Homo sapiens: one gene and its partner. The protein of the gene in region 1 interacts with the protein of each later gene in a biochemical or structural test. Each region holds a gene or a part of one and is shown on either strand. Other genes may lie near its edges.

Region 1 (4,948 bases):
ATCCAAATAAACATCTACTCTGGATGGGCAATTAGGAATTCCAAGTCCAAGAATGACTCAAGGGGAATTCCTAAAATAGAGTCCAGCTCTAATTTGAACGTTCCCAAAAGGAATGTTATAACTCATTAGTTAAGTAATAATAAATTAAGCCAAAACTGATAAATACTACAAACATGTGAATGAAAATAATCTCTATAACTATTGGGAGTTGAATATAGTTTAGAGATTAGAGGATAAGAATAGGGGTGTGTGAAGTTTATCCGATTTATATAGAGGAAAAACATCAAAACTTACTCTGAAACCCTATGCATTTCTTTCCTGTTTTTTTTTTTTTTTTTTTTTTAAGACGGAGTGTTGCTCTGTCACCAGGCTTCAGTGCAGTGGTGTGATCTCAGCTCACTGCAAACTCCGCCTCCCGGGTTCAAGTGATTCTCCTGTCTCAGTCTCGCAAGTAGCTGGGACTACAGGTGTGTGCCACCAGGCCCAGCTAATTTTTGTATTTTTAGTAGAGACGGGGTTTCACCATGTTGGCCAGGATGGTCTTGATCTCTTGACCTCATGATCCCCCCGCCTCGGCCTCCCAAAGTGCTGAGATTACAGGCGTGAGCCACCGTACCTAGCCTCTTTCCTCCTTTTTTTTAAAATTTCTTATTTTTGTAGAGACAGGGTCTCATCATATTGCCCAGGTTGGTCTTGAACTCCTGGACTCAAGCAATCCTCCTGCCATGACCTCCAGAAGAGCTGTGATTACTGGTGTGAGGCACCATGCCTGGCCTTTCTTTCCTTTCCTTTTTTTTTTTTTGAGATGGAGTCTTGTTCTGTCGCCTAGCCTGGAGTGCAGTGGCACAATCTTAGCTCACTGCAACCTCTGCCTCCCAGGTTCAAGCGATTCTCCTGCCGCAGCCTCCTAAGTAGCTGGGACTACTGGCGTGTGCCACCACACCTGGCTAATTTTTTGTATTTTTAGTAGAGACGGGGTTTCACGGTGTTAGCCAGGATGGTCTCGATCTCCTGATCTCATGACCTGCCCACCTCGGCCTCCCAAAGTGATGGGATTACAAGGCGTGAGTCACTGTGCCTGGCCCTCTTTTCGTTTTTTGAGATGGAGTCTTGCTCTGTTGCCAGGCTGGAGTGCAGCGGCACAATCTCAGCTCACTGCAACCTCCACCTCCCGGGTTCAAGCGATTCCCCTGCCTCAGCCTCCAGAGTAGTTGGGATTACAGGCGCGCGCCACCATGCCCGGCTAATTTTTTGTATTTTAGTAGAGATAGGGTTTCACCATGTTGGCCAGGATGGTCTCGAACTCCTGACCTTGTGACCTGCCTGCCTCGGCCTACCAAAGTGCTGGGATTACAGGTGTGAGCCACCGCACCCGGCCTCTTTTTTCAAATAGAGACTGTCCCACTCTGTTGACCAGGGTGGAGTGCATGGTGTGATCACAACTCACTGTAGCCTTCAACTTCTGGGCTCAAAAAATCCTCCTGCCTCATCCTCCTGAGTAGCTGAAACCACAGGTGTATGCCACCACATCCAGCTAATTTTCAAATTACTTTTTGCAGAGACAGGGCCCTCACTATGTTGCCCAGGGTGGTCTCAAACTCCTGGGCTCAAGGTATCCTCTAGCCTCAGCCTCCGAAAGTGCTGGGAGTACATGTGTGCCACTGCACTCCAGACTGGGTGACACAGTGAGGCTCTGTCTCAAAAATAAAATAAATAAAATAAAATCAGTCAAATTAGCCAGGCGTGGCAGCATGCGCCAGTAGTCCCAATTACTTGGGAGGCTGAGGCAGGAGAATTGCTTGAACCTGGGAGGCAGAGGTTGCAGCGAGCCGAGATCGCACCACTGCAACTCCAGCCTGGATGACAGAACAAGACTGTCTTAAAAAAAAAAAAAAAAAAATTAGTCAAGTGCAATAGTGAGAAGGGGGGGAAAGAAAGAGTCCAACTATTTTTTTTTTTTAATCAAGTGCTTATATGTTTTGGGGAAGAAAAAAAAAAAAAAAACGTTGGGATCCAGGTGCCTTGGCCTGTAATCCCCATATTTGAGAGGCCAAGAGGACTGCTTGAGCCCAGGAGTTCAAGACCAGCCTGGGCAACAAAACAAGACCCTGTCTCTTCCAAAAAAAATTTTAAAATTAACTGGGCGTGGTGGCGGTGTGGGCCTGTGGTCCCAGCTACTAGGGATGCTGTGGTGGAAGGATCGCTTGAGAGCACCACTACACTTTAGCCTGGGCTACAGAACAAGACTCTGTCTCAATTACAAAAAAAAAAAAAAAAAAAAAAAAAAAAAGGCTGGGCGCAGTGGCTCATGCCTGTAATCCCAGCACTTTGGGAGACCGAGGCAGGTGGATCACCTGAGGTCAGGAGACCAGCCTGACCAACATGGAGAAACCCTGTCTCTACCAATACAAAATTAGCTGGGCATGGTGGTGCATGCCTGTAATCCCAGCTACTTGGGAGGCTGAGGCAAGAGAATCTTGCCCAGGGGGCAGAGGTTGCGGTGAGCCGAGATTGCGCGACTGCACTCCAGCCTAGGCAACAAGAGCAAAACTCCGTCTCAAAAAAATAAAAAGGGCCAGACACAGTGGTTCGCGTCTGTAATCCCAGCACTTTGAGAGGCTGAGGCAACCTGAGGTCAGGAGTTCGAGACCAGCCTAGCCAACATGGTGAAACCCTTTCTCTACTAAAAATACAAAAATTAGCTGGGCGTGGTGGTGGACACCTATAATCCCAGCTTCTCGCAAGGCTGAGGCAAGAGAATTCCTTGAACCTGGGAGACGGAGGTTGCAGTGAGCCAAGATCGTGCCACTGCACTCCACCCTGGGTGAAAGAGTGAGACTCAGTCTCAAAAGAAAAAAAAAAAAAAAGTTGAATGACTTAATGGGCACCAGAATGCTTTTGTCCAAATTGTGCTTGTATTACAAGCATTATAGCCTCAAAGAACAAAGCTTCAACTGAGAGCTGGAGAAGAATTCATTTACCAGAATACTTCATTTCTTTCTTTTTATTTTGAGACAGAGTCTCGCTCTGTCGCCCAGGCTGGAGAGCAGTGATGCGATCTCGGCTAACTGCAACCTCCACCTCCCAGGTTCAAGCCATTTGCCTGCCTCAGCCTCCCGAGTAGCTGGGATTACAGATGACTGCCACCACGCCCAGGTAATTTTTTGTACTTTTAGTAGAAATGGGATTTCACCATGTTGGCTAGGCTGGTCTTGAACTCCTGACCTCAGGTGATCCACCCGCCTTGGCCTCCCAAAGTGCTGGGATTATAAGCATCAGCCACCACTCCTGGCCCCATTTCATTTCTTTAGAAGTAAAATGCTGGCCGGGCACGGTGGCTCACGACTGTAACCCCAGCATTTTGGGAGGCCGAGGTGGCCGGATCATGAGATCAGGAGATCGAGACCATCCTGGTTAACACGATGAAACAGTCTCTACTAAAAATACAAAAAATTAGCCGGGCATGGTGGTGGACGCCTGTAGTCCCAGCTACACAGGAGGCTGAGGCAGGAGAATGGCATGAACTCGGGAGGTGGAGCTTGTGGTGAGCAGAGATCACGCCACTGCACTCCAGCCTGGGCAATGGAGCGAGACTCCGTCTAAAAAAAAAAAAAAAAAGTAAAATGCTATCTGCAAAGAGATCATCATATCCTTGTTTTAGGAAAACTCTTTGGGCAATATATTCCACAGGTCTGAAAGATAAACCTTTATTGCCAAGGACTGCTCTCAGCCAACTACAGTACTTGTAAAATTCAAGAATGTATAACTGTATGCCAGCCAGTACTGACTAACAGGTCATTCACTCTTTAGAGTTGCAGTAAATAGCAATGCTCAAACGCCCAGCTAGTTTTTTGTATTTAAAATTATTTGTATTTAAATCTTAAAAAATATTTTTAAAAATACATTTTACTAGGTTCTTATTTCAACACAAACTGAACTCATCAGCTGTAGCAGTATGTTGAAAAACAACTGTTGCCATTCAGCTGATATTAACAGCTCAGAACTGTTTTCTATGTCTAAATTTCAGGTTAACGATATCAGCCAAAATCTATCTTCTCATACCTATTCTCAAAGGAACGGTCTTACAAAACTAATAATCTGGTCGAGTGCGGTGGCTCACACCTGTAATCCCAGCACTCTGGAAGGCAGAGGCAGGCGGATCACCTAATGTCAAGAGTTGGAGACCAGCCTGACCAACATGGTGAAACCCCGTCTCTACTAAAAAATACAAAATTAGCTGGGCATGGTGGGGCATTCCTGTAATCCCAGCTACTTGGGAGGCTGAGGCATGAGAATCACTTGAACTCGGGAGGCGGAGGTTGCAGTGAGACAAGATAGCACCGTTGCAGTGAGACAAGATAGCACCATTGCACTCCAGCCTGGGCAATAAGAGCTAAACTCCGTCTCAAAAACAAACAAACAAAAAAAAAAAATTCCTGCTTTTTCTTTGCCTAAATTTTTATCAAATATTTTGAACAGAAGCCACATGTATTTCTACACTACAAGAAAAGCATAAGTTCAGAAATAAGTAATCATACCCCCTAGTCAAACTTAACTATAGGAAGGAAGGACAGGACAGGACAGGAAAGGAGGAGAAAAAAGAAATTAGCTGGGTATACTCAGGAGGCTGAGGCAGGAGGATGGCTTGAGCCCAGGAATTTGAGGCTGCAGTGTACTATGACAGCCTGGGCATCATAGCAATGTCTTTGAAAAAAAAAAGGATGGCCGGGCACGGTGGCTCACGCCTGTAATCCCAGCACTCTGGGAGGCCGAGGCGGGAGGATCACAAGGTCAGGAGATCGGGACCATCATGGCTAACATGGTGAAACCCCATCTCTGCTAAAACTACAAAAAAAAATTAGCCAGGCGTGGTGGCGGGTACCTGTAGTCCCAGCCACTGCACTCTAGCCTGGGCGACAGAGCAAGACTCCATCTCAAAAAAAAAAGG
Region 2 (3,500 bases), on another chromosome or scaffold:
GCCACTCATTCAACAGACCATTGCTGGTTGCCTTCTCTCTGCTCAGTTCTATGTTTGGCACAGCCTCAGTCTAGTAGGCTCACATTTTTTTGCCAGCAGTGGATCAGGGCCGGGCTGTGGGAATGACAGGAAGAGGGACATGTGAGAAGCATTTGGGGCGTGTCCTGGAGATCTGAATTCAGTGGCTCTGGCTAAGTGAGGACACTGTTCTTGTGGCAGACTGTGACCCTGCCCCCTTCCCACAGCTGGCTTTGGGGGCATCCTGGGGCTGGGCAGCCTAGGCCTGGGCTCTGCCAACTTCATGGAGCTGCAGCAGCAGATGCAGCGGCAGCTGATGTCCAATCCTGAGATGCTGTCACAGATCATGGAGAACCCCCTGGTCCAGGATATGATGTCTAACCCTGATCTGATGCGTCACATGATTATGGCCAACCCCCAGATGCAGCAGTTGATGGAGCGGAACCCTGAGATCAGCCACATGCTCAATAACCCTGAACTCATGAGGCAGGTGAGTATGAGAGGGCTGGAGAGCTGGAGGACACTGGTGCCCAGCCGTGCCCTGCCCAGCCTTTCCTACTTTGTCCTACATTGATTTGTTCATTCGTGTATTCAGCAGTTTTGAACACTGGAGGTACAGGGATGAAAAGACAGGCCTAGCTTTTCAGGAATTCCAGGTGTCAAAGGGAAGTAGGACAAGTAAACCGGCAATTAGAATACAATGTGGCCATTGCTATCAGAAGGATAATCATGGGATCCTCTAGGAGCATAGAGAAGAGCTCCTGACCCTACCCTAAGGCTTAGAGGAGGCCTTAAGAAATGTCACCGAGCTGAGACCCAAAGGAGGAAGACGAACCAGGGGGAAAGAAAGAAGAACATTCAGGGCTGAGGGACAGCAAATATAAAGGCCTGGGAGTGAAAGATAGTAGGTTGTTTGGGGAGCACTGTGGCTGGGCAGGGCCCAGTTGGGAATGGAGAACCAGGGGAGACTGTTGTGATGTTGCTCTTTGGGAGTTCCAGCTCATGGTCCGCTCCACCAGAGGACCAAGGTAGATGATCTTCCCAGCAGGGCTGTGGACACCAGTGCTGGACTCACCAGAAGATAATTTATGTAAGGTCAAGGACTTGTGAGTGTTTTGTTCACTGTCTAGAACAGTGCCTGGTGCGTGGTAGTCATGCAGTAAATATTTATTGAATGAATGAATTACGGAACAAGAGATCAGAGTTCTGGGAAGCTGGGCATATCAGTTATAAAGGAGTCTTAGAAAAGGCAAGTGTGGAGCACATTTGGGAAGGAGAGGGAAGGTATTCCAAGTTGAATGGGAACAAGTAGTTATACTTATTTTTCTGTGATGAACTCCCCCGGGGTTGACATAGCCACCCCTTATTGAGATTGTGCCATTGGCTCCATAGAAGAAAGCCCCCATCTTCAGTGTTTCTCAAGGTTCAGGCAGAGCAAAGACTTGGGGGTGGGAATTACAGGGTGTCAGTAGCTTTATTCCAGCTTGAACGCTTTCCTTCCCCAACTTGCAGTCATTTACCAGGAATCACAGTATGGTCTTGGACAGACCAACCAACCTGGCTTTGAACACTGTCTTCACCACTCAGTGACTGTGTGTCCCAGGGCAGCAAGTCAATTAACATCTCTGAGCCTATTTGCTCATCTGCAAAATAGGGACAGAAATAAACACCTGAGATGGTTATTGTGGAGATTACATGACTTGAATTCCGTAAGCTACTTGGCCCTGTGCCCATATACAGTAGGTTCTCAGTAGATGTTAATTTTCTCTTCTGCCTCCTCCCCTTTCTTTCTGTGTCTCTTCTGACTCAGTTTCCTTGTGCACCCTGACACTTCTTTGGACACTCTGAGCCTAAGGGAGGGAAGCTGCTGCCCTCACTTCAGCTGGGATCATTGTCCTCCACTAGAAAAAGCCAACCAAAATACCCACAGGGAGGCGGGCTTGGAGCCAAGATTACAGTAGAGGAAGGAAGTCCAGTTTACTCTACTCCCTGTCACTGTGGGGCAGTTCCTGGGCCCTGGTCCTGATCCTGATACAGACCCCCCTTCCTCAAGGCCCACCCTTTTCCTAGGTTGGTGCTCCCCTGGTTCCGGGGCCCATTTTGTCTCTCTCCCTTGATCAGACAATGGAGCTTGCTCGGAATCCAGCCATGATGCAAGAGATGATGCGGAACCAGGACCGGGCCCTGAGCAACCTTGAGAGCATCCCTGGAGGGTATAATGCCCTCCGCCGCATGTACACGGACATCCAGGAGCCCATGTTCAGTGCTGCCCGGGAACAGGTGGGATCAAGGGCCAGGGTAGTGGGTTGGGCTGTCTGGGCTCGAGATTCCCTACCCCCACCCCAGGCAAACCTGGGCCTGCTCTTCTTTCTTTCCCCAGTCCCCTGAGGGGTGGGCCTTGGCTTGAAGGCAGTTCTCAACAGTACATATCCGGGGATGGTCCATTTTGGCATGGACAAATATAAGCAGAGGTCCTTGTGGAAGTGGTTGAGGCATAGCATCCAAGGAACTTGACATCCTGACAAACTTCTTGTACCAGGGGCTCAAAGGTCACGTGGCAGGCCTGAGGTCAGACGCCAGCCCTGATACAGCATGTCTCAAGTATGGTCCATGGATCACCTGCATCAGAATCACCTGGGGACCTTGTTGATAATGAGAATCCTGGTCCCCACCTTTGAGCTACTTATTGAATCCATTTCTGGGGTTGGGCCCCAGGATTATACACTTTTAAAAATGCTTTATGAATCCTATTCAAGTACACACAAAAAAATAGATAAAAATGTAACATTCTTTTTTTTTGTTTTTAATCAATGTTGCCCTAACATGTTGCCATATATAATTTCAGTGCCCTTTTGGTTCTTTCTTTCTTTCTTTTTTTTTTTTTTTTTTGAGATGGAGTCTCGCTCTATCGCCCAGGCTGGAATGCAGTGGCGCAATCTCGGCTCACTGTAACCTCCGCCTCCCGGGTTCAAGCAATTCTCCTGCCTTCTCCCTGGTGGCTAAGACTACAGGTACATGCCACCACGCCCGGCTAACTTTTTATATTTTTAGTAGAGATGGGGTTTCACCATGTTAGCCAGGATGATCTTGATCTCCTGACCTCATGATCCGCCCACCTTGGCCTCCAAAAGTGCTGAGATTACAGGAGTGAGCCACCGCGCCTGGCCATGGTTCTTTTTAAAAATTTAATTTTACATTAAACACATTCTATGTTTGTATGTTTGAAAATGCAAAAGTTGGCCAGGCGCAGTGGCTGACACCTGTAATCCCAGCACTTTGGGAGGCTGAGGTGGGCGGATCACGAGGTCAGGAGATCGAGACCATCCTGGCTAAAATGGTGAAACCCCATCTCTACTAAAAATACAAAAAATTAGCCGGGCATGATGGCACATGCCTGTAGTCCCAGCTATTTGGGAGGCTGAGGCAGGAGAATCGCTTGAACCCGGGAGGCAGAGGTTGCAGTGAGCCAAGATCGTGCCACT

Evidence for each region. The genes of interacting proteins can lie anywhere in the genome.
Region 2: the proteins of GJC1 (region 1) and UBQLN4 form a complex in vitro, tested with the Homo sapiens proteins (one study listed by BioGRID).

What each region holds. Positions count from the first base shown.
Region 1 is NC_000017.11:44,822,928-44,827,875, forward strand, and holds part of GJC1 (gap junction gamma-1 protein), read right to left. Parts: intron 1-4,948. UniProt on the Homo sapiens protein: One gap junction consists of a cluster of closely packed pairs of transmembrane channels, the connexons, through which materials of low MW diffuse from one cell to a neighboring cell.
Region 2 is NC_000001.11:156,047,299-156,050,798, reverse strand, and holds part of UBQLN4 (ubiquilin-4), read left to right. Parts: intron 1-245; coding exon 246-508; intron 509-2,139; coding exon 2,140-2,298; intron 2,299-3,500. UniProt on the Homo sapiens protein: Regulator of protein degradation that mediates the proteasomal targeting of misfolded, mislocalized or accumulated proteins.